Linked DNA regions of Homo sapiens. The protein of the gene in region 3 purifies or fractionates together with the protein of the main gene of each other region. This does not show direct contact. Each region holds a gene or a part of one and is shown on either strand. Other genes may lie near its edges. The genes, in order: ABHD12, LETMD1, SLC39A12 and SREBF2.

Evidence for each region.
Region 1: the proteins of SLC39A12 (region 3) and ABHD12 purify together in Homo sapiens (co-immunoprecipitation; 4 studies listed by BioGRID and IntAct, with this or other methods). This does not show direct contact.
Region 2: the proteins of SLC39A12 (region 3) and LETMD1 purify together in Homo sapiens (affinity purification with mass spectrometry; 3 studies listed by BioGRID and IntAct, with this or other methods). This does not show direct contact.
Region 4: the proteins of SLC39A12 (region 3) and SREBF2 purify together in Homo sapiens (affinity purification with mass spectrometry; 3 studies listed by BioGRID and IntAct, with this or other methods). This does not show direct contact.

The regions. Positions count from the first base shown.
Region 1 is NC_000020.11:25,380,804-25,387,835, reverse strand, and holds part of ABHD12 (lysophosphatidylserine lipase ABHD12), read left to right. Parts: intron 1-7,032.
Region 2 is NC_000012.12:51,051,323-51,058,354, forward strand, and holds part of LETMD1 (LETM1 domain-containing protein 1), read left to right. Parts: intron 1-765; exon of another isoform or gene 766-769; coding exon 770-885; coding exon of another isoform or gene 886-924; intron 925-2,455; coding exon 2,456-2,538; intron 2,539-4,512; coding exon 4,513-4,699; intron 4,700-4,821; coding exon 4,822-4,923; intron 4,924-5,027; coding exon 5,028-5,180; intron 5,181-6,683; coding exon of another isoform or gene 6,684-6,709; coding exon 6,710-6,806; intron 6,807-7,032. UniProt on the Homo sapiens protein: Plays an essential role for mitochondrial structure and function, as well as thermogenesis of brown adipocytes.
Region 3 is NC_000010.11:18,038,910-18,043,809, forward strand, and holds the end of SLC39A12 (zinc transporter ZIP12 isoform 1 precursor), read left to right. Parts: intron 1-3,795; coding exon 3,796-3,924; 3' UTR 3,925-4,376; downstream 4,377-4,900. UniProt on the Homo sapiens protein: Uniporter that promotes Zn(2+) import from the extracellular space to the cytoplasm across the cell membrane. The transport activity is temperature dependent. May play a role in neurulation and neurite extension.
Region 4 is NC_000022.11:41,899,098-41,906,129, reverse strand, and holds part of SREBF2 (sterol regulatory element-binding protein 2), read right to left. Parts: intron 6,894-7,032; coding exon of another isoform or gene 6,734-6,893; exon of another isoform or gene 6,008-6,733; intron 5,801-6,007; coding exon 5,632-5,800; intron 5,187-5,631; exon of another isoform or gene 5,118-5,186; intron 3,161-5,117; coding exon 2,975-3,160; intron 1,268-2,974; coding exon 1,156-1,267; intron 691-1,155; coding exon 470-690; 3' UTR 1-469.

The DNA.
Region 1 (7,032 bases), on a different chromosome or scaffold from region 3:
CTCGTGACCTCGTGATCCACCCACCTCGGCCTCCCAAATTGCTGGGATTACAGGCGTGAGCCACAGCGCCCGGCCTGGAATATTTTTAAACAATTTTTTTTTTAAGAAAGTTCCGTCACCCAGGCTGGAGCACAGTGGCATGATCATGGCCCACTGCAGCCCAGACCTCCTGGGCTCAGGCGATCCTCCCATATCGATGCTGGGTGTATGCCACCACTCCTGGTTAATTTTTTTTTTTTTTTTTTAATAGAGATGAAGTCTCACTATGTTGCCCCCAGGCTGGTCTTGAATTTCTGGCTTCAAGCGATCCTTCTTCCTGGCCTCCCAAAGTGTTAGGTATGAAATACCGTGCCAGGCCTAAATTCTCCTGCCTCAGCCTCCCGAGAAGGTGGGATTACAGGCATGTGCCACCACACATGGCTAATTTTTGTATTTTTTGTAGAGATGGGGTTTCACCATGTTGGCCAGACTGGTCTCCAACTCGTGACTTCAAGTGATCTCCCTGTCACGGCCTCCCAAAGTGTTGGGATTACAGGTGTGAGCCACCATGTCTGACCTCTTTTTCTTTTCTGATTGCATTGTATTTCTAGAACAAAGTTAAATAATAGGGATGACACTGAGTAACTTGTTTCATTCCTGACTTTAATGAGAATGCTGTTAGTGTTTTTGCCATTTAAGTGCCATGCTGGGGTGTGTTGCTAATGTTGTGGGGAGCTTTTTGTTTTTGTTCCTGCTCCCTCACTGATGTTTTTAAAATAAAAAATGGTGATTGAGTTTTCTCAAATGCCAGTGTACATCTGTGGAATGATCATAGAGATTTTCTTCTTTTATCTGTTAACATAATGAGTTATAGTAATGGATTTATATTATTGAATCATCATTGTATTCCTGGGATAAACTCTCTTATTGTATAGCCAGATTCTATTTATTCATTTATTTTTTATTTTTATTTTTTGAGGCGGGGTTTCACTCTGTTGCCCAGGCTGGAGTGCAGTGGCACGATCTCGGGTCACTGCAACTTCTGCCTCCCAGGTTCAAGCAATTCTCTGGCCTCAGCCTCCCGGGTAGCTGGGATTACAGGCACCTGCCACCATGCCCGGCTAATTTTTGTATTTTTAATGGAGACGGGATTTTGCCATGTTGACCAGGCTGGACTCGACCTACTGACCTCAGATAATCTGCCTGCCTCAGCCTCCCAAAATGCTGGGATTATAAGGCGTGAGCCACCGCACCTGGCCTATTTATTAATATTTTATTTTGAAATTTTACATCATGAGGCCGGGCTCGGTGGCTCACGCCTGTAATCCCAGCACTTTGGGAGGCCGAGGCAGGCTGATCACGAGGTCAGGAGATCGAGACCATCCTGGCTGACGGGTGAAACCCCGTCTCTACTAAAAAATACAAAAAAAATTAGCCAGGCGTGGTGGCGGGCGCCTGTAGTCCCAGCTACTCAGGAGGCTGAGGTAGGAGAATGGCATGAATCCGGGAGGTGGAGCTTGCAGCGAGCCCAGATTGCACCACTGCACTCCAGCCTGGGCGACAGAGCAAGACTCCATCTCAAAAAAAAAAAAAGAAAGAAAAAGAAATTTTACATCATTTGTGAGAATAGTCTGTAATTTTCTCTTATGCAACCTTTATCAAGTTGTTTTAGTGTTTTCTATAGCTTTGTAAAAAGTTTCTTACATAACATTTTATTCTAAACTTTTATTTTTATTATTATTATTATTATTTTTTTGAGACGGAGTCTCGCTGCATCACCCAGGCTGGAGTGCAGTGGCGCGATCTTGGCTCACTGCAAGCTTTGCCTCCCGGGTTCACGCCATTCTCCTGCCTCAGCCTCCCAAGTAGCTGGGACTACAGGTGCCCACCAACACACCTGGCTAATTTTTTGTATTTTTTTTAGTAGAGACGGGGTTTCACCGTGTTAGCCAGGATGGTCTCAATCTCCTGACCTCGTGATCCGCCTGCCTTGGACTCCGAAAGTGCTGGGATTACAGGTGTCAGCCACCGCACCCGGCCATTTTATTCTAAACTTTTAGCCAGCTTAAGAATTTTTTAAATTATTTGTTTAAAATTTGGTAGAAATTCTCTTGTAAAACTGTCTAAGCCTGGTGCCTTTCTATTTATTTATTTATTTATTTATTTAAATTTTTTGGTACAGGCAGGTCTTGCCACGTTGCCTAGGCTGGTCTTGAACTTCTCTCTCAAGCAGTCCTTCCACCTCTGTCCCCCAAAGTATTGGGATTATAGGCATGAGCCACCACCCTAGCCAGTGCTGTTTCAGAATATAGCACTTCGGTAACTACTACAGTGTCTTCTACGTCTGTTTAGAATTTGCTATGTCCTGGTTTCAGTTTTGGTGGTTTATGTATTCTTATAAAATTACCAATTTAATTCACCTTTTCTCCTCTGTAGCTATGGCCATTTCCCTAGTTTTCTTCCCTGTTTTTTGTAATTAGGGTTTTTCCTCCGTTTTCCTCTTTTTTTTTTTTTTTTTTTTTTTTGAGTCTCACTCTTGTTGTCCAGGTTGGAGTGCAATGGCATGATCTTGGCTCATTGCAACCTCCGCCTCCCAGTTTCAAGCGATTTTCCTGCCTCCGCCTCCCGAGTAGCTGGGATTACAGGTATGTGCCACCACACCCAGCTAATTTTGTATTTTTAGTAGAGACAGGGTTTCTCCATGTTGGTCAGGCTGGTCTCAAACTCCCAACCTCAGATGTTCCACCCGCCTTGGCCTCCCAAAGTGTTGGGATTACAGGCGTGAGCCACCGCGCCTGGCCTGCTTTTTCCTCCTGATTTAGGCTAGTCAGTAATATATCTAATATCCATACATACACTGAAGTGGGGAAATATATATACACACACACATACACACACACACATGTTTTGTGCTCCATCAAAGAAAATATCTCTTTTTAGTTCTGGGGGATGCTGAGAAGTGGAGAGAACAGGTTCTTTCTGAAGGGGACAGCAGCTACCACACCCTGTCCTGTTGCTGCCTGGCAGGAATGTGGTCCCAGAGTGGCCAGATTGTCCAGTCTTTCTGGAAAAGACTAGCTGGTGTTTTTTTTAGTTTGTTTTGTTTTGTGTTTGAGATCGGGTTTGGCTCTACACCCGGACTGGAGTGCTGCAGTGCAGTCATGGCTCACTGCAGCCTCTGCCTCTCAGGGTCAAATGGTCTTCGCACCTCAGCCTTACAAGTAGCTGGGACTACAGGCACCCACCACCATGCCTAGCTAATTTTTGTATTTTTTGTAGAGACAGAGTTTTGCCATGTTGCCCAGGCTGGACTTGAACTCCTGAGCTCAAGTGATCCACCCGCCTAAGCCTCCCAAAGTGCTGGGATTACAGGCATGAGCCAGTGCACCCGGCCTTTTGTTTGTTTATATAGTTTTTTTTTTGTCTTAGTGTGTGTGCTTGTGTGTGTGTGTGTAGTATTGCCAACTTTTTTAACATTGGTAAGTAACTCAGATGAGAACAATTTTGGAGGTTAAAAAAAAAACCCCAAACCAGTTTTTTTTGTTTTTAAATTCTGGGCCAAAAGATAATTTTTAAAGGTAAATATTTATCTCATTCATAGGTCAACTCTGTACTCCTTGAGACGAGGAACTAGATCAGTTTTGCTTTGCATGGTATCTGGTGTGAGGAGGTACTGGGCAAATGAGTGATTTTTTTTTTTCTTTTTTTTTTTTTTGAGACAGAGTCTCACTCTGTCACCCAGGCTGGAGTGCAGTGGCGTGATCTCGGCTCACTGCAACCTCTGCCTCCCAGATTCAAGCGATTCTCCTGCCTCAGCCTCCTGAGTAGCTGGGACTATGGGCGCCCGCCACCATGCCCGGCTAATTTTTTTTCTTTTTTTTCTTTTTTTTTTTTTTTTTTTTGAGAAAGAGTCTCCCTCTGTTGCCCAGGCTGGAGGGCAGTGGCGTGATCTCGGCTCACTGCAACCTCCGTGTGCCAGGTTCAAGTGATTCTCCCGCCTCAACCTCCCGAGTAGCTGGGATTACAGGTGCACGCCACCATACCTGGCTAATTTTTTGTATTTTTAGTAGGGACGAGGTTTCACCATGTTGGTCAGGCTGATCTTGAACTCCTGACCTCATGATCCGCCCACCTTGGCCTCCCAAAGTACTGGGATTACAGGGGTGAGCCACTGTGCCCGGCCTTAATTTTTATATTTTTAGTAGAGACGGGGTTTCACCATATTGGCCAGGCTGGTCTTGAACTCCTGACCTTGTGATCCGCCTGCCTCGGCTTCCCAAAGTGCTGGGATTACAGGCGTGAGCCACCGCGCCCAGCCCAAATGAGGGATTTTGTGGGCCTTTCATTAGCCCTGGAATTGTTGGGAATGTGCATTGAAGGCATGACTGGTCTAATTTGGACCCTGAGAAGGCAGTCATGAGATGTACACGGTCTGTGTGTTACCTAGTCTTTATCCTCCAACTCCCAACCGACAGGCCAGATCTGCTGGATTGACAGAGATCAGTGGGCTGCATGGGAGGTTTCATAGCCAGATCACCCTCATACGTAAATGCCAAAGAACATAGTCATCACACCTATTTCTTCCTTTACCCAAAGAAGATACTTTATCCAAGGTTGCTAATGGCTTCCCCCTAACCCAGAAGAGTGGGTGGCTGAGGTTAACATCTGTCTTCTTCAGTGTCAGCCTTCCCGAGGTTCAGTATCAACCTCACCCTCTAAGTGTCCCTGTATGGTATCTCTTCATCTTTTCTTTACAGATTAGGAAGATGGGAGCGAGTTCTGAGCTAGCTTTTGTGGTTAAAGTCTGCTTCATCCATCTCCTTTTTCCTTTTGCTCCACCCTCAGTACAGTCTGGGCCAGGACTGTGACAAGGCATGGGGCTGGCTTTGTTTATGGCGCCATAGCTGGCCCCCCCCCTCAACTGGTACTGGTTTTCCTCTTCCTAACTCAGTGTACCTTATCAATGCTGCACTCCAGCCAGGGACTGGCCACACTGGGACTTGGTGCTTTGCCACTGCCTTCTGCTTTATTAGGACTCTGCATCCTGTATCTCTGCTTGGTTCCTAGTTCCTTTCAGCCACAGTGACCCTTCCCAAGGGAGTGTCCGCCTTCTATGGTGACTTTGGCAGACAGGCCTGAACTGTGAGGGGTATCTTTGGGCAGGCTGAAAGCACCTGAGGCACTTTCATGGAGGAAGCCTTGGAGAGAGGCATGGAAGATGGGTCATCTTGTCAGGTTTGTGCTAACAGCGATGGAGACAGGACCTCATTTCAGACTCCCGCTGCTGCAACTTCTCCTCCTCTTCGTTCCCCTCCTTTCTCTCCTCTTCCATTAGAACACTTGTCCTTCCAGAGTGAAATCTGCAGGGAAAATGTTTATTGAAATATAACCTCAAAAGCTGACAGATGAAGTCAATGCTCTTCACCCAGAGATGACGCCACAGGACTTTGGTCTCAGTGTGCTTGTGCTTTGGCAGGGGCCCTTTCAGCATGAGAGTGGGTAAGCCATCTATCTCGTGCCACACCGAGAGCCAGCGTCTAGAGTGTCAGTCAGTGAACAGGGGCCAAGAGCCAGGATGCCGGAACCAAACTGTCCCATTACCAGCAAGACTTCTCATTTAGGCCTCAGCCCCTTTGTATTGTGATTTACTGCTTCAGAGGATAGCCTTCATAGAGACCCAGGTCTCAGGTGAGTTTTCAGATTCTCTGGCTTGGGTGAGTTGTGTAACACTCTGAGTTTGTTTCTTCATCTGTGATGTAGGGATAAGAGTGTCTTCCCTGTAGGATTGTGGTGAGGCCCAGGTGTGTGGAATGTTCCTGGCACATGGTGAGTGCTTGGTCAGTGACATCTTCTAGATGACTAGCCCCATGATGATTATAATATTAAGAGCTCAGGGTACTGGCCAGTGTGGTGGCTCATGCCTGTAATCCCAGCACTTTGGGAGGCCGAGGCAGGCAGATCACTTGAGTTCAGGAGTTCAGGACCAGCCTGGCCAACGTGGTGAAACACCATCTCTACTAAAAAGACAAAAATTAGCCAGGTGAGGTTGTGAGCACCTGTAATCCCAGGTGAGGGATTATCTCCTGTAATCCTGGGAGGCTGAGGCAGGAGAATCGCTTGAACCCAGGAGGTGGAGGCTGCAGTGAGCCGAGATTGCACCACTGCACTCCAGCTTGGGTGACAGAGCGAGACTTTGTCTCAAAAACAAAACAAGGAAAAAAAAAAAAAAAGAGGGTACTGAGAAAGATCTGTTAGCTCATGTCTAGAAGGATTTTCTTCTACCCTTTTCTGCCCCAAACAATTAAGAGTCTGGCTTCTCAGCCAGTCGTGCATATAGGGTCCATCCTGATCAGTTAATGTGTCTGTTGGTATTAGAGCATTTGTAGCAATACTATTTGCTTATTTAACACTTTTTTCCAGCCACTCATTTAACAGTTTGAGTACCTGTTACGCCCAGTAACACCTGTGAATGCTGAGGCCGTTGCAGTTCTCCTGGCCTTTACATTCTGGTAGGGGAGGCAGATAAAACATGAAGAAACACATGATGTCATGTGCTTAGGGCACTAAGGAGGAAAATGGTGCCAGTGAGGGAATAGCCGCAGATGAGGCCCTGTGGCTGTGTGTGCACAGTCTGGGTGTACAGGGGATGTTTCTGACAAGGAGACATGTGAATGGATGCCACTGGCTGCTAGAGAAATGGCATGGTGTGTGTCATCATGTCACTCTGACTGTGTGACAAGCACAGACTGCGGTGGGCAAGCAGGGAGACCGGCTAGGGGCTGCCAGGGTCATCCAGGCAAGAGATGACAGGGGCTCAGGCCGGGACAGCAGCTGTGGAGATAAGAAGAGGCATGTGATTCTGGATTCACAAACTACTTTCTGAGCAACAGGAAGAATGGAGTTGCCAGATACTGAGATGGGGACAGATGTGGAAAGAGCAAGTGCTTTGGGGCAGGAGAAGTAATGTTTGGTTTTGGACATATTGAGGTGCCTGTTAAACATCCAGGTGGATAGGGGATAGAGTTCAAGGGGGAGGTTAGGGCCTGTACCTGA
Region 2 (7,032 bases), on a different chromosome or scaffold from region 3:
GAACTCAGGAGGTGGACGTTGCAGTGAGCCGAGATTGCGCCACTGCACTCCAGCCTGGGCGACAGAGCAAAACTCCATCTCAAAAACAAAAATAAGTGTTCCAGGCCGGGCGCAGTGACTCATGCCTGTAATCCCAGCACTTTGGGAGGCCGAGGCAGGTGGATTGCTTGAGGTCAGGAGTTAAAGACGAGCCTGTCCACATGGTGAAACCCCATCTCTACTAAAAATGCAAAAATTAGCCAGGCATGGTGGCACACGCCTGTAATCCTAGCTACTTGGGATTCTGAGGTGGGAGAATTATATAAACCTGGGAGGTGGAGGTTGCAGTCAGCCGAAATCGCACCACTGCACTCCAGCCTGGGCAACAAAGTGAGATTCCATCTCAAAAAAAAGAAAAAAAAAGTTCCAGAAAGGAGATTAAATTAATATCTGGCTGGGGAATACATAGGGTTAATTTAGCAAGACTTTCTGAAGTTAGGGAGCTTGATTTTTAAAAAGGAGTGACCAGTGAAACAGAAGAGGGAGACCATTCCATAGCAGATTACAGAAGCCAAATGTAGCTAGAAGAGAGGCGATGTGCTAGGGGAAAAAATGTTGAGAAAAGAGATTCGAGTTGACCTCAGGAGTTTCAAGTTACCTAGTTTAAAGCTTTGAGTATCGTTGGGGAGGGGTGAGAGTGTTTGCATGTGATTGAACATGGAGTAGGAAGCTGTGGTTAAGATTTAAACTGGGATAACATCACACTCTGTCCTCTACTTTAATGAGGCAGGATTGCAGATGTTATGGGCTGATGCCAAAAAGGCTAGAAGAATAAAGACAAATATGTGGAAGCACAATATAAAGTTTCATCAACTTCCATACCGGGAGATGGAGCATTTGAGACAGGTATGGGCCAGGGGCAGATATCCAGAAGTTCATGGTGAGGTAATTACATTTAATCAAGATCTCAAGGTTTTTTCTTTCATTTGTTGTTCACCATTGATCAAGCTTTTGCCCTTTGCCGTGAGAACAAAATATTGAACTGAATGAGGCATCAGATTATTTGTAAGAATTGGGTTCATCCAGAGTTGTAGCCCTCCATAGCAAGAGCTCCATAGAATTTCTGGCACACTTTCTGAATGAAAGTTGTAAATACTAAAATCTAATTAGTTTCTGAACATAACAAAAGTCTGCAAGGGGGCTGGGCGCGGTGGCTCACGCCTGTAATCCCAGCACTTTGGGAAGCCGAGGCAGGCAGATCACGAAGTCAGGAATTCGAGACCAGCCTGGCCCACAAGGTCAAACCCCATCTCTACTGAAAATACAAAAATTAGCTGAGTGTGGTGGCGGGCGCCTGTAATCCCAGCTACTCGGGAGGCTGAGGCAGGAGAATCGTTTGAACCCGGGAGGCAGAGGTTGCAGTGAGCCAAAATCATGCCATTGCACTCCAGCCTGGGTGACAGGGCAAGACTCCATCTCAAAAAAAAATAATAATAAAATGAAAATAGAAGTCTGCAAGGGCAGCCAGGCACAGTGGCTCTCGCCTATAATCTCAGCATTTTGGGAGACTGAGGTGGGCGGATCACCTGAGGTCAGGAGCTTGAGACCAGCCTGGCCAACATGGTGAAACCCCATCTCTACTAAAAATTCAAAAATTAGCTGGGCATGATGGCAGGCGCCTGTAGTCCTAGTCCCAGCTACTCGGGAGGCTGAGGCAGGAGAATTGCTTGAACCTGGGAGGCGGAGGTTGCAGTGAGTGAAGATCGCGCCACTGCACTCCAGCCTGGGTGATAAGAGCAAAACTCTGTCTCAAAAAAAAAAAAGTCTGCAAGGATCCAAAGGGCAGCATGAAAGTAGTATTTGGTGGTGACTTGATGGGTCGTTTTGAAGCTGAGAGTAAGAATCTAGGACCCATTCCGCAGATCAGGAAGAGTTCACTGAAGGATTTGGTATAATGTCAGGCTCTGTACTAGACATTATTTGGGATACAAAAGTAAATAAGTCAGAGGTTTTGTCCTCAAGGAACTAACCATCCAGAAGTAAATAGAAATAAACTTGGGGACCACATGCAGTGCTCATGCCTGTAATCCTAGCACTTTGGGAAGCCAAGGCGGGCAGATCACTGGAGGTCAGGAGATTGATACCAGCTTGTCCAACATGGTGAAACCCTGTCTCGACTAAAAATACAAAAGTTAGCCTAGAGTGGCGGCTTATGCCAATAATCCCAGCTACTCGGGTGGCTGAGGCAGGAGGATCACTTGAACCCAGGAGGCAGAGGTTGCAGTGAGCTAGGATTGCACCACTGCACTCCAGCCTAGGTGACAGAGCAAGACTCCATCTCAAAAAGAAAAAGAAAGAAATTTGGTCCTTTTTCTGGGCTGTAATAGAAGTTTACTGTACAGTGGGGTGGATGGATTGTCTATTGTATTAACAACTTATTTGGGTTAAAACTGCATCTGTGTTTATTTCTGCTTAGTTCCGCCAAGACGTCACCAAGTGTCTTTTCCTAGGTATTATTTCCATTCCACCTTTTGCCAACTACCTGGTCTTCTTGCTAATGTGAGTACAGACTTCCATCTCCCCAACATCTTGAAGATGTATCAATTTTTTTAAATTAAGAATTACTTTAAACAGCACTCATTTCAGAAGATAGGCAGAGGTTATCAAACTTCTGCTCCAATCTTCTCATTATTCCAAGGTTCATAAAAACCACTTAGGAAGACCTTGGTTACTGTGACACATCACAGCTATAAGTGTAGGTGGCCTAGACTCTCCCTATCTCTTAGCTGCCCTGAGTCATGTGAAATAAGATAGTGACCTTCTCCATCATCCCTAGAGGCTCTCTCCCCGAGAGAGAGTACTTTTAGACTAATTTCTTTAGGAAAAGTACATTTCGTATTCTGATAACATTTTTATTACTTCATATCCAAAAATGACATTTCTTAACTGTGATCTTGCATGTCATTCATTATCTATTGCTGTATAACAAATAACTTCAAAGCTTAATAGCATAAAACAATCGTATAAATCATTTTCATGATTTTGTAGCTCAAGAATTAGGGCAGTGCTCAGGTGGGCAGTTGATTTCTCTCTTCCATATAGGGTTGACAGAGGTCCCTTAGTGATATTTAGCTGCTGAATGGACTAGTCTGGAAAGTCCAATATCACTCTTATGTCTGGTGCCCTGGCAGGGATGGCTACACGGCTAGAACTGTCAACCAGAGTGCCCAGATGTGGCTTCTTCAGTATGGCAGCCTCAAGATAGTGGGACTTCTAACTTGGGAGCTCAGGGCTCCAAGAGTGAGGGGTTCTAGTAAGAATCTACATGACTTTATAACCTTGTCTTGAAGGTCACATAGAGTCACTGCTGCTCTGTCCTATTGATTGAATCAGTCACCTAGAATGAAAAAAGGGCAGGATGTAGACCTCAGCTCTCCATGAGACAAGTGCCAGAGAATTTGAGGTCATGTTTTAAAACCACCAAACACGTAGATAAATAAATTAAAAAACAAATCGTGGCCAGGTGCAGTGGCTCACGCCTGTAATCCCAGCACTTTGGGAGGCCGAGGCGGGCAGATCACAAGGTCAGGAGATTGAGACCATCCTGGCTAACACAGTGAAACCCTGTCTCTACTAAAAATACAAAATACTAGCTAGGCGTGGTGGCGGGTGCCTGTAATCCCAGCTACTTGGGAGGCTGAGGCAGTAGAATCGCATGAACCCAGGAGGCAGAGGTTGCAGTGAGCCGAGATCGCGCCACTGCAGTCCAGCTTGGGTGACAGAGCGAGACTCTGTCTCAAAAAAAAAACAACAAATCAGTTGCCTTTTACATACTGGGTCCACATAAGGACTGTGCTATAGTTAGATTGTCAACATCACATATAGTGTCCTGGTCAGGCTGCAACTCTCTCCAAAGCATGCTCTTCACATGCTTTAGTTCAAAATGAGTCATTATATCTGATTGCTGCGTGGCAGGCTATTCTGCTAGTCCTTCCTTTCACATCCCATTTCAGTAATGGTGCTTGAAATTGTGCTTCAGTGTGTCTTATAAACTTTGGTCTGAGAGTCACTTAAGAGAAAGGGCTGACTGTAGTGGCTCTCACCAGTAATCCCAGCACTTGGGGAGACTGAAGCAGGAAGATTGCTTGAGACCAGGAGTTTGAGACCACCCTGGGCAATATAGCAAGACCCGTCTCTGCAAAAAAATTAAAAACTTAGCCAGGCATAGTGGCCTGTGCCTGTAGTCCCAGCTACTCAGTAGGCTGTGGTGGGAGGATTGCTTGAGCCTAGGAGGTCGAGGCTGCAGTGAGCTGTGATCTTGCCACTGTACTCCAGCCTGGGTGAGAGAGGGGACCCTGTCTCTTAAAAAAAAAAAAAAAAAAAAAAAAACTGAAAAAGAAAAAGAACACTGAGGTAGGGAAATAGTGTCTCCATCTCTTCTTCCTAGTATTCATGTCTACCAAATGCTTTCTTTGGCTTCCTCTGAAAGAAGCCAGTTTCAGCAAGTGAGTTTGTGATTCTTTCTCCTTTCAGGTACCTGTTTCCCAGGCAACTACTGATCAGGCATTTCTGGACCCCAAAACAACAAACTGATTTCTTAGATATCTATCATGCTTTCCGGAAGCAGTCCCACCCAGAAATTATTAGTTATTTAGAAAAGGTCATCCCTCTCATTTCTGATGCAGGACTCCGGTGGCGTCTGACAGATCTGTGCACCAAGGTATTCCTGCAGTTAACCCTTCCTACAAATGTGGAATCTTGTTAGATTCAGTGTGCACTAAACTAGGTAAGAGGAGTAGTCAGGACTTTCCTAACATCTACAAATCTCTTACCTCTTCCAAGATACAGCGTGGTACCCACCCAGCAATACATGATATCTTGGCTCTGAGAGAGTGTTTCTCTAACCATCCTCTGGGCATGAACCAACTCCAGGCTTTGCACGTGGTGAGCACTTTGAGGGCTTCTCTTTTCCATAGCATCACCATGTTTCAGGTGTTTGCTTGAGCTCATACTATTTGCCTTTCCCCTCCTATGTGGTTGTGTTACAGAAAGCCTTGAGCCGGGCCATGCTTCTCACATCTTACCTGCCTCCTCCCTTGTTGAGACATCGTTTGAAGACTCATACAACTGTGATTCACCAACTGGACAAGGCTTTGGCAAAGCTGGGGATTGGCCAGCTGACTGCTCAGGAAGTAAAATCGGTAAGAGCTTGATTGCAACATCAACCCTCAACCCTTGGTGTGCTTTTGAGCCTATGGCAGGCCGGAGGTTTACAGGGGCTCCTTGTCTTGTTTGTTTATAGAACCCAGCTTCTTTATTCTCTCACTTCATTTATTTATTTATGATTTATTTTTATTTATTTATTTATTTTGAGACAGAGTCTCATTCTGTTGCCCAGGCTAGAGTACAGTGGCACAGTCTTGGCTCACTGCAACCTCTGCCTCCCGGTTCAAGTGATCCTCCTACCTCAGCCTCCCAAGTAGCTGGATTACAGGTGTGCACCACCACGCCCAGCTAATTTTTTGTATTTTTAGTAGAGATGGTTTCACCATGTTTGCCAGGCTGATCTCAAACCCCTGGCCTCAAGAGATCCATCAACCCAAAGTGCCGAGACTACAGGTGTGAGCTACCGCACCCAGCATATTTATTTATTTTTCAGTCTCACTATTTTAACCAAGCTGGTCTTGAACTCCTGGCCTCAAGCAATCCTCCCATCTTGGCCTCCTAAAGTGCTGGGAATACAGCCGTGAACCACTGTGCCCGGCCTTTTTAAAAATTATTTTTTAATTAGCCAGGAGTGGTGGCACATGCCTGTAATCCCAGGTACTTGGGAGGCTGAGACATGAGAATTGCTTGAACCCAGGAGGTGGATTGCAGTGAGCCAAGATCGCACCACTGCACTCCAGCCTGGGTGATAGAGTGAGACTCTGTCTCAAAAAAAACCCAAAAAATAAAATAAAATTATTTTTTATTTTTGTAGAGACAGGGTCTCACTATGTTGCCCAGGCTGGTCTTGAACTCCTGGGCTCAAGTGATCCTCCCGCCTTGGCCTTTCAAAGTGTTGGGATTACAGGCATGAGCCACTGCGCCCAGCTCCTCACCTCATTTCTGTGTCTTTTTTCTCAAGAAACTTAGCTAGGGGGAAGGAATTGCCCACAGAAATTTTGGTTTGTATTTCTTTTCTTCTGGCACTTCAGAAAGCAAGGATACTGCAGTTTAGACCTACTATTTTAGCTTATATAGGACTCTTTGCTTTTGTCATCTTGTCCATCACTAGTTTTCAAATTGCCATGAGGAAAGGCTTCATGTGGGAATGAGATTGTAACTTTTTTTTTTTTTTTTGAGACAGAGTCTCGCTCTGTTGCCCAGGCTGGAGTGCAGTGGCATGATCTTGGCTCACTGCAACCTCCGCCTCCCAGGTTCCAGTGATTCTCCTGCCTCAGCCTCCCGAGTAGCTGGGACTGCAGGTGCATGCCACCACGCCTGGCTAATTTTTGTATTTTTTAGTAGAGATGGTGTTTCACCATATTGGCCAGGCTGGTCTCCAACTCCTGACCTCGTGATCCGCCTACCTCGGCCTCCCAAAGTGCTGGGATTACAGGCACGAGCCACCGTGCCCGGTGAGATTGTAACTTATTTAAAGGAGATTTAGGATTGTTTGTGGATTTCCATTTCCTTGGCATAATCATTCTATGATTATTAAGGACCATTTCTGTTCTGAGTGGTATAGGCTTGTTATCTCCGTGGCCTGAATTCTACGCATATTGGTGAAGATAGGTGTCGAACTTGGCTGGGAGAATGGCTGCAGATTTCCTGCAGCCTGAAAGGTAAAACACATTTCTGTGGTTATACCACTAAAATCCAAGTCACTTTTGTATTTTATTCTGAGGTCATTTTGGAGTTAATTATTGAGTACTGTGAGACATATATATACATACATCTAATTGAAAGGGCACAAACTCACATGCCTACTGCATGCCCGGCAGGTAACGAAGTAGGCCATAAGACAAGAGGGAGTAGTGGGGACTGTGGAAACCTAAGAGTGAATGCATG
Region 3 (4,900 bases):
AAGATATTGATGATTTGAAAAGTCATCTCAAATTCTATCTCTTGAACCAGAACCATTTTTACTACCATGCGTCTATCTTGCCCAAAATATTTTTCTCCATAATAGTCCACTCAAAATAATCGTGATGGTTCAATAAATGACCTATACTTTATAAGTCTTTGCAAACAAAACCTTTCCAGAAAACACTTCTACTGTGTACTTTACCAAAGACTAAGAACAGCCAGGTGGCAGTAGGGACAGAGATGGGATATGCTGTTAATTCAGCCATGTTTTACAAAAGATAATTAATAATCTTGTTTGAAAAATGAGGAGGAGGAGGAGGAGGAGAGGGAACTACACAAGATCTTATTCCATATTTGGAAATTAGAGTAATCAAGGTTTGAGCCTGTAAATGACCACAGATGGTATGATTGTGTCTCACAGATGCAGTTTGAGATGCAGCTTACTGGGACAAAGGAAGGTGGTGGCCTATGTTGTCTGGCTTTGGAGAAAACTATTAAAAAATACTGAAAACTATTGAGAATCAAAGTGATTGGGGCTGAGTATGGTGGCTTATGCCTGTAATTCCAACACTTTGGAAAGCTGAGGCAGGAAGATCAGTTGAGCCCCGGCATTTGTGATCAGCCTAGGCAACATAGCAAGACCTCGTCTCTACTAAGAATTTTAAAATTAGCTGGGTAGGGTAGTATGCACCTGCAGTCTTAGCTACCCAGGAGGCTGAAGTGGGAGGATTGCTTGAGCCCAGGAGTTCACGGCTACAGTGAGCTATGATCACATCACTGCACTCCAGCCTGGGCAACAGTGAGACCCTGAATCAAAAAAAAGAAAAACAAGGTATTGGAAAATTCCCATGTATGTACCTTGTTAATCCCTCAAGAGTACCATCAAATGCAAGCTCTTTGAGAACAAATACTATTTCTTCCCTATACATATAAGCCTTAATCTAGAATTCTGCCATGTCCACTGTGGATTTTGAATTAATATCAAGGCATTTAGAAACCAAAACACTCTGAATGTTGAACTAATATCAAGGCATTTAGTAAATGAAAGATATTCATTCGCCACTTAGGAGGAAACGGGGAAAGTTTGTCATAAATCCATTGTTAACTATATGAGAAACTTGCAACAGTTACATATAGTTCAAACATTAAATATATGTAATTTAAAACATATACGTAATATATAAAACATGAAATCAGATGTTTCAGCTGCTTCTTGCTAAGTCACTTTACTACAAAATTGAAAATATAGACTGTTTTATCCACATTCCATAGATTTTCCAAAATGGCATTTTGAATTTATAATTGATGAATCAGATAAGATTTTTCTAAAGTATAACATGTTTAAACCTGGCATAAAGACACCAAAAGAGCATGTAATTTGTTTAAAATGGTCCACCCAGGAGAGCAGTTCTGGATCCTACTTTGTCTTTGAGTCCATTGCTCCATGCCGGGATGTGAGATGGCAGGTCATAGTAAACCACCCTCATGCCATTGAAATAACTACCTAAGATGAAGAAATATCTCAAACAGAGCATTCAGGGTGCTCCTCTCCATGTACTTAAAAATGTGTCAACCTGGCCAGGCATGGTGGCTCATGCCTGTAATCCCAGCACTTTAGGAGGCCAAGGCAGGTGGATCACCTGAGGTCAGGAGTTCAAGACTAGCCTGGCCAACATGAAGAAACCCTGTCTCTACTAAAAATACAAAATTAGCCAAGCATGGTGGTGGATGCCTATAGTTCCAGCTACTCGGGAGGCTGAGGTAGGAGAATCGCCATAACCCAGGAGGCAGAGGTTGCAGTGAGCCGAGATCATGCCACTGTACTCCAGCCTAGGCGATAAGAGTGAAACTCCATCTCAAAAAAAAAAAAAAAAAGTGTCAAGCCATTTTCTATTGCCATAAACCTAAAGTCCTTGATCATTCATTTGATCGATAAAATAATCTGAGTCGTTCTCTACTGGAGGTGATTTTTATCCCCCAGAGAAAATTTGACTGTGTCTGGAGGCATTTTTGCTTGCCATGATTGTGGGCAGAGACACAGCTGACATCTAGTAGGAGCCATAGATACTGCTACAACATCTTCTAATGGACAGGAGAGGGGTCTCACAATGAAGGATGATCTGGCCCAAAATGGCAAGATTGAGTTAAATCTCCAATCCTTGTTGACACGAGCCTGTGTCCCAATGGAAATGACTGTGTAATGAAAGAGGTATGCTTGCTCTGACCTTCTCAGGGTGAGGGCTTTGAAATAATTTGAGACAAATACACCTTGGGGCACTTCACACAGATGCGTGAGTGAACCCTTCCCTCTAAATGGTGTTAGGCCATTTCACAAACATGAAATAGTTGCCATGTGTTTCTCTGAGAATAAAATATAGCCACAGGACAGCCTGGTCAACACAGTGAAACTCTGTCTTTACCAAAACATACAAAAATTAGCCGAGTGTGGCAGCACATGCCTGTAGTCCTAGCTACTCAGGAGGCTGAGGCAGGAGAATTGCTTGAACCCGGGAGGCAGACATTGCAGTAAGCTGAGATCCCACCACTGCACTCCAGCCTGGGTGACAGAGTGAGACTCTGTCTCAAAAAAAAAAAACTTTATATATATATATATGTATATATATACACACACACACACACACACACGCACACATACACACACACATACATACACACACCATATATATGTGTATATATATGTATATACATATGTATATATGTGTATATATATGTATATACATATGTATATATGTGTATATATATGTATATACATATGTATATATGTGTATATATATGTATATACATATGTATATATGTGTATATATGTATATACATGTATATATGTGTATACATATGTATACATATGTATATACATATGTGTCTATATGTATATACATATGTATACGTATATGTATGTACATACATATGTATACGTATATATATGTACATACATATGTATATGTATATATATACACACATATATGTATATGTATATATGTATACATATATATATGTAGCCACAGGAGATAATGTCCTTACTGTTCTAAAGATCAGGAGGATCTTAGTCATCGCTCTCTCTCTCTCCTTTTCTTCCTCCCTCCTCCCATAATATGTATATATGCCTTACATCAACCTGTGCATATAGTAGTTCTATAAGCCTAATAGAACAGTCCAAAATAATAATTTTGATGCATTATTTACTTCACATTTAAACATTTTCTGAAAAGTAAGAGTTGGGTTTGTTTTTGGTTGGTAACTATGTCATTTTAAGACTTCTACCAAAGGCCAGGTGCAGTGGCTCACGCCTATAAGCCCCAGCACTTTGGGAGGCCGCAACATGCAGGTTGCTTGAGCCCAGGAGCTTGAGACCTGCCTGGGCAATACAGGGAAACCCCATCTCTACAAAAAAATGCAAAAATTAGCTGGGTGCAATGGCACGCACCTGGAAGGCTGAGGTGAGAGGATTGCTGGAGCCCAGGAGGTTGCTGTGAAATGTGATCGCAGCCATTGCACTCCAGCCTGGGTGACAGGGCAAAGACCCTGCCTCAAAAGAAAAAAAAAAAAAAAAAAAAGACTTTGCCAATCCTGGGATCCTCATAACCACAATCAAATGGCTTACTTTTAGCTTACATTTCAAAGACATGGTAGAGTAGGTATTCAGCATTTTGTAACTGTTTTGGGAATTTTAAAGGTTATTAAGTTCTGAATAACAGTCGCTCATGTTTTCCCACCAAGCTTTTCCCAGCAGTTGAATATATCTGGATCTTATTCTGGTTTTTTATTCTTTTTTTAGCTTCCTGAAATGACTCATGTTCAAACACAACGACCCTGGATGATGTTTCTCCTGCAAAACTTTGGATTGATCCTAGGTTGGCTTTCTCTCCTGCTCTTGGCTATATATGAGCAAAATATTAAAATATAAGTGAGGATCTTCAACATCTTTCAAAAATGCATTTATATAGTCTTACTTTGTTTCTTTCATTGCACTCTATAATGATTTTTAAATTAAGAATTTTTTATCTTAGGCAAAGTGTGTCTCTTTCAATTCATTAACTTATTAATTTTATAATGCAGTTTTATTTTTGGAAACATATAAATATCAGACTGTCCTTAATTGAAATTTTGTCTTTGGTTTCCAACACCATGATGAAGCTCTTGCTTTTTAAAAAGTAGTTAGTAAATTCTGCATGAATTTTAGTAAACTTTAAAAAATAGATTTTTTCCCTAAGAAAGAATGTTTGTAGAATTTAAAGTGGACAGATGCCTGTTGGAGTAAAATCAACTGCAACTTTTTGATGTTAATTTTTTTCCCTGTGCAATTATAAACTATAAGCAAGTTAAGTGACAAGCAAATGTAATAAAGACTAGTTTTAATATGGTGGTTTTTATTACCTTCTGTTACTGGATGTCAGATTCTGAGTCATCTCTTAAAAAAACAATGTATAGTTCACCCACTGACTCTAGAGCGCTTGTGAACAAGCCATTTTGGGAGACCTAAAGGATAACATGTCAGCATTCTTCTATGTAAGTCGTCAAATGAAATCTGTTCCAGGCAAGGGGAGCTGGAAACATAAGATGAAGTTCAAAATTTTTAAAGTAACAAAACTGGAGTCAGGCAGTAGATGAATGCCTAAACTCTCACAGATTTAACAGAGAATATTTATGGGAATAATCTCACTAACACGTGAGATATATTTTATCTTCTTTCTGAGGAAACAGAATCCTGAACAGGATTTCAATAGGTAAGTTCATGAAATGTACATGCAATTTACTGATAACCTAGCGAAAGTGTTGAAACAGAAAATAACCCTGGCTTTAGTCAGTTTTCTTAGAAAACAGATGCCTTATATTTTTCTTATTTTTTAAATGCTATTTCTTGACAAGGGAAAAAACCCATT
Region 4 (7,032 bases), on a different chromosome or scaffold from region 3:
CCCAAGCACACTGGTAGAAAACATTCGTATAAAAAGGGGAGGGCATGCTGGGCACAGGCCTGAGGGCAACTGCTCCCTGGTGCTCAGAGACTGCTGTCCCCCAGAGAAAGCCTGATAAAAACTGAGGAAGCAAAAAGGAGAGAGTAGGGTTCAGGAGAGAGAAACTCAGGAAGGCTGGAGGCAGGGGCTTGGCAGCTTGGGAGCTCCCCCTGCTGCTATCAAGTCAGGGCTGCCCAGTTTCTGCCCTGCCACCTATCCTCTCACGCCCACCAGGCCCTGGACCATGGGCATCTAGTGACAGCAGCTTTAAGGGGCTCTGCCCAGGGGTGCACTGGCCTGAGTGGCCCAGAAGCCTCGGCAGGTGACAGCTAAGAAGACAAGGCTCTTCCCCACCACTCTCAGCGGGAAGATGCTGAGGGGGAGAGAGAGAAATCGAGAGAGAGGTGGAGGGGTGGGCTGAGCCTGGTGGTCAGGAGGCGGCAATGGCAGTGCCACCACCCAGCTTAACAATCATCTGCTGGCAGTCGTTGCAGGAGCGCCGGTCGCCCACCTTCTCCAGGGTGCGGGCAGCTTCGGCCAGCAGCACTGCCCGCTGGCCCGGGGAGGAGAGGAAGGAGAGGGGCAGGTGGCGGCAGGCCAGCAGGATGGCGGTGGCCCGCTCTCGCTGGCCGGGCCAGGCATCCACCTCTCCTGTGGGAAGGAGATGTGTGTCACAACCGAGAATCTACCATGAAGTTGGTGCAGTTCCTTGGCGTTACCTGGACTCATTCACTGAACGCTCACATCCATCCTGGGAGGTGGGGTCTGCTGCCCCACCCAATCCACGGAAAAGAAGTGAACTTGTCCAGCCTCTCACGGCCAGCCCGTGGTGGGGCTGAGATGGGCCCACATGACCTGGCTCGAGCTTCTGCTTCTATGCCTGCACCTGTGCTGGGACGCCACCCCAACCCTCCTTCCCTGATCACAGCATGACCCATGACCACCCCAACCCCTGCAACCCACCAAGGGCGGCCTCGGGCTTCTTTCATTCTCAGAGAGGCGAGAGGTGTGCTGGGCACCAATGCCAGATGTGGGAGCTGGGCTGGCCCCTCTTCTCCTCTCTTCCTAGGGCGCAGGGCCTGGCCCAGCCTGTGAGCTGGGGAGGGGTGGACTCACCGTGCTTGGTGCTCTGCGTGGTGCGCCGCCGCAGGCTGTGTTCCAGCAGCTGGTGGGTGCGGGTGGGGCTGGCTCCTGCCATCAGGCGCACGGTGGCTTCATGCAGGAACACCTGGGGAGGTGCCGGGGTGACATCCATCACACCCCTGGTCCCCACCCATCTATGCCCAGGGTAGCTCTCCCTGAGCCATCTCGCCTGCCACCTCATGACATCCCTTCCCACACCACCCTGCCTTGCTCACCCCTGAAAAGCAACCTCTGTTGTCCCGTACTCTGACCCTGAGCCAGGCAGGAAACCTGGCTGAACAGCAGGAGCAGGATGAGAGGAGAGAGAGGCAAAAGGCCTGCTTTTCCCAACTGGTGACAAGAAAGCCCTGGACGCACCTCGTGGGGCTGGTAGACAAGTGCCCTGGGTGAAGCCCCAAGGCCCTGGAGGCTGCCTGCAGTTTGACAAAAGGACAGGTGTGACAGGGACAGAGGGGTGAGGAGGGACAGTTGGGCTGGTACCAGAGAGGTTTGGTATCCTCTTTCCGTATCTTTAGAAAGGAAGAGAGTCTAGAGGTGTGCGGGTAAAGTCTGCAGCGCTTAGGTATGAGCCACTGGTGGGTGAAGGGCAAGGCTGAGGTCTGTCATTTCTTAAAATCTCAAGCTCTTTTTGATGCCTTTATATCTCAGTCTTCAGGGAGGGTCTTCAGTGCTGCCAAGTGGATTCTGGTCCTGGTAGGCAATGGGGAGCCGCTGATGGGCTCTCAGCAGGGAGCAGCAGAATGGAAATGGTATTTAAGAGGAGGCCTTTGGACCAGGCGAGGTGGCTCACACCTGTAATCCCAGCACTTTGGGAGGCCGAGGCAGGAGGACAGCTTGAGGCTAGGGGTTTGAGACCAGCCTGGGCCACATAGCAAGACCCCATCTATTATGAAAAAAAGGCCACTGATGCCAGCCATGCTGTGAGCAGACCAGAGAGCTGACCAGAGTGGGCTCCAGGAGGCAGGGGTGCCGCTCCAGGCCTGGGGTACATGCCCTCTTCTCCACAGTAAGGAATGGCTCTCCGATGATACTGTCTGTTGTGTCTGTCTTGGCTTGCTGCACACAGTGGCCACAGTGCAACCCTGGGTGGGCCCCGCAGCACCTCAGGGTGATGGGTGTGGGGGCTGAATCCCAAGCTCCACGGCAGCAGCCTCGCTCTGAGGCCTTCTTCCAGCCCAGCCCGTGCCCCCTCAATGACACTTGAGTCATCTCACTCAAATTTTTAGAAAAAAATACAGGTACAAATATGTTGAATACATTATATAGCAATACAAATAAACAAAAAAGGAAATAGCTGGAGCCTGGCAAGCCCAGTCATAGAACTTTCCTCCGTGACTTAGTTCAGATCACGTGGCCACTGCCAAGGGGATGTTACCCAGCAGCAGAACCGAAGCCTCTAGCTACTGTGAAAAAGAATGAAAGTCAACGTGGAGCTCGGGACCAGGCCAGGAGCCCTGACTTGCCACCATTGCCCTCAGAGCCCTCCCACCCAGCATGTGCCTGGGGAGGCACAGCTCCCTGCTGGCCCCTGTCTGTGGCAGCAAAGTGTGGCCTGCTCCCTGCTGAGCTCCAGGGCCAGGCATACAGCAGGCACTCAACCAATGTGTGCTGAACACAGGGACACATGGCGCCTAGCCCAGTGTTGGGCACGAGCCAAGCAGGTGCTCGACAGGTCACCAGGCTGACCTCAGAGGGCCAACTCCACAACCACATGCTGGTGCCCATGCTGGGTTCTGGGCTCAGGCCCCACAGGCTCCAATCTGCCCTGCCCCACCAGCCAGCTGGGCCTCACCTTGCGGTATGCTGGGCGGAAGCTGTGTGCCAGCCTGCGCAGGCTGCCCAGGTCCCGTTGGAAGCCCGCCAGTTCAGCGCCTGACGCGTGGTAGGTCTCCCCCACAGCCTGGCTGGCACTGGCCTGTTTTTGCCAGAGCGCTGTCCGTAGCGACAGTAGCAGGTCACAGGTGAGCAGCTGGACCACCTGTGGGGTCAGCCACGAGAGAGGGGAGACAGGTGACTGGCCCATCCCTGAGGCAAGGATCCTAGCACCTACCAGGCCTCTCCCCAGACCAACACTCAGCAGCTCTGGGAGGAAGTGGAGAGCCCCAGAGTCTGGTGAACTCCGCAGGACGTGAGGGAACAGCTCAGGGGAGAACCAGTTCCTTCCATGGCCCCAGGAGGTGGGAGACAAGCCCTCCCCATTCTGCAGGTGAGAAAGCAAGGCTCTGACAGGGACAGCAGCTTGTATAGGGAATACAGCACAGGCAGGTGGCAGGGGCAGAAATAAAACCCTTGTGGGTTGAAGGCGCAGGTTCTTCCACCCCATGGGAGTCCCACCATGGCTGGCTAGGAGGCTGAGATACCCACAAGGTACCAAGGAAAAGCCTGAAGTGGCAGCAGAGCCTGTCGATGGGGCTGGGGGAAGGAGGAGGAGGAGTGGGAGAGGGAGACAGGTGTCTCAGAAGACAGAACCACAGAGTGCCTTAGTGCTTGGGGACTAGGCCTACTGACCCGGCTTTGCCACTTACTAGCTACATGACCCTGGCATAGGACTTAGTCTCTCTGAGCCTCAGTTTCTTCATTCAAAAAAATGTAAATGGCACCATCACAGGGCTGTTGTATCATATGAGAAGGTACTGCATGTGGGCCATGCATACTCTCTGCCTACGACCTATGGGGCTGGGCTGCCCACCCGGCTCGCAGTGGCACACCTGCACGACACCGAGCAGTGAGGAGTCCTTGTTGAGATGGGCCGCAAGCAGCCCTCCGGTCCTGATGAACTCCCTCAGGCTGAGCCTCATCTCACCCAGCCCTGGCTTTCCTCCTTCCCAGGACACTGGGCCTGAGGAAGACCCTGCCCTGTCCCTGCACAAGGCCTTGATCCTTGCCTACACTGTTTTCTGGCTGTTGTGTGCTTCAAGGGGATGTGGAAAAGGATCCCTCTCCTCAAAACCTGGCACTTCTAAGCTGTGCATGCTGCAGAAGCACCTGTGGGCATGGAGGCAGCAGGCCTATGTCTGGATTCTGCCCTCCGAGGGCCATCAGGCTGCATGGCGTTGTCTTCTAGGCTCACTTTCCTACCACAGAGCTGCTACCAAGGAACCCCAGTCCAAAGGGTGGCTGCAAGCCTCTCATTCCCCAAACTGAGCCTGTACTGTTTGGTTCTCTCATGAAGACAAATACGGAAGAGACTAATGGAAAGCCCAAAAGAGAAGGTGAAATGTGGCTCACCATCTGCCTTTGGTCTTGGCAGCCCAGGGCATTTGGGCACCCCCACCAGCTTTTTTTTAAAGATGGAGTCTCGCTCTGTTGCCCAGGCTGGAGTGCAGTGGTGCAATCTCGACTCACTGCAACCTCTACCTCCTGGGTTCAAGTGATTCTTCTGCCTCAGCCTCCTGAGTAGCTGGGATTACAGATACATGCCACCACACCTGGCTTATTTTTGTATTTTTAGTACAAACGGGGTTTCACCATGTTGGTCAGGCTGGTCTCGAACTCCTGACCTCAGGTGATCTGCCCACCTCAGCTTCCCAAAGTGCTGGGATTACAGGTGTGAGCCACCGCGTCCAGCCAGTTTGGGCCTTTTCTGCACATTGCCTGTCCCTGTAGGGGCTGCCACGCTGTCCTGGGTTCATCCCAGTGCCCAGGTCCACTGACAATATCTAGCTTGAAGTACTAGCCTAGCCAGCTAAGACCAAGCCCCAGGGAGTGGCTGAGAATCTGAATCTCCAGGACTCTCCCGGTCCCTCCCACTCTGGAGCTAAGGACATGTTCCCCGTAGACCAGGTGATGCTCCACTTTCAGCTGGGTGCCCTCCTGTTTCCTGGGATGGCTGTGACTTGGGCCCCAACAGTGGCAGCAGTGCCCTCTATCAGGATCCCCTCCCCCACCTGATAGGGCCTTCAGTCAGGGCAGTCTCTCGAGGGCCAGGCAGGCCTCTGTGATGCACTGTGGAAACATTGCATGGGTACCACCAGAACATGCAATGCAACTACAATGCACCACAGCTGCCCGCCAGGAGGTATGCGGCCAGCCAAGGAGGTGCCCAGGGTGGTCTTCAGCTCTGTTTGTGTGCCCGAGGGGGCAGGAACCCACTCCAAGGCTGCCTGCAGAGGCCTGGGAAGTCACGCAAACCGCTGGAGCAAATGCAGGTGAACCCCTGGCCAGCTGGGGTGCACCTGGGCTTACAGAGGCTATGGGCCAGCAGGACCTGGGACTCTGGGAGCCTAAGAAAGGTGCAGGTAGAAACACACTTGCCTCAGAGGCTGAAAAGGGATGAAAAAGGAGTCCACCTAGGCCAATAAGCCGTAACTTTTTTGAAAGGGGGCTGCTGTCCTGGTTTCTCTGTCTTTCGGATGGCCCCACCCGCAGGGTCAGCATGAGGTGAGTGGGAGTGTTCTCGTAAACCAGTGCAGAGCACCTCCCCCAGGGGCCAACTCAGCTCCCACTCACGTGGTTGAGGGCAGGGTCAGAGGTGGCCCCACTGACGTTGAGGCTGCTCCATAGGTGGCCACTGGCCCTCTCGCAATGGCAGAAGGAACTCTGCTGCCCATCTGCTTTCCCAGGGAGTGAGGCATGCATGGCTCTGCAGGCATGGAAGATGGCCTTCACCAGGGGGCTCCTGCAGCAGTGACAGGGAGTCGAGAGGCAGGTCACTATGTGTCACCTGCGTGACAGGCAGAGGGGCCCAAGCCAGTGACTGCCACGCCCCACACTGATATGACATGTGCATCTGTTGACTCCAATGCTGCCACTATGGCACCATGCCACCAGCTCCAGATCTGAAATGCCAGCCCTGAGCTAGGGTTAGCGCCCCACCCTTTAGCACCTTCATTCAATGCTGGAAGTCAGAGACACAGGCTTCACCATCACGTCTGCTGCTAAGAAGCCACCCAAGATAGTCATTCCAACGTGTGCCTCAGTTTCCTTACCTATAAAGTGGCCACAATAAGGTGTTGTACCCGTTCTTTAAGGGACCACCCCCCCAGAGATGTGGTATTAAACTCTCTGGAGATACTTAGTTAGCTTCTTTCTGTAGAGGAGACTGGGAGTGGAAGGGGAGGCTAGGGATGGGGGAGGGTTCTCATAGCATCCTAGTCCCTGAAAAGCAGAGGGACCCAGGGGTAAGTGAATCCAGCAGGCAGCAGTGCCTGCAGGGGTGTCTTGGCTGTCCATGGAAGCTCTGCTGCTCTGGAGCGAGGTGACTTTGGACAACTTACCTGCTGAGTCTCAGTGTCCTCAGGCACATCGACTGGGGGAGACACACATACAGGTGGAATGCTATACCGGGCTGGGTGCTTACCTAGTCAGAGTGCTTACAAATGGGGCTACTTCAATGAAATTAGGGTGTCACATCTACTTCAGGGAACAAAGGACTTCAAGCCTGTGTATACTCACTCTTCTCAGCTCCTTCCTGTGCGCCGGTTAAGGGTCTGCTTGATAGGAAATGCTACAGCCTTGGCTCTAAGGATAGGACCTCGTGGGGCCTTTCTGTCTTGGAGCATTTTACAGTTTCTCTTAGAATACTCAGATCCAATTAGAAACAGCCGGGGAGTCAGCAGGCAGGGCTGCCCATCACTAGTGCCGAATGCCCCCAAGACGCAGACATGAATCTCCAAAGAGGAATGTCAAAAGCTCTCCGGTTATGCCATGTGCTAAAGGCTATTTTAGTTACAGGACAAAGTTGCCAGGGTTGATGGTGGGGGTGGAGGTGGCTGGAAGGAAAGTGGATAAAATGCTAGCACACAGGGGCAAGATGCTCCAGTGCACATGAGTTTTGGGGGCAACAGTGGCCTCTCTGCACTGATTGTGAACCACCAGTGCCTGCCTCCACCACAAAGCTTCTGAAGATGC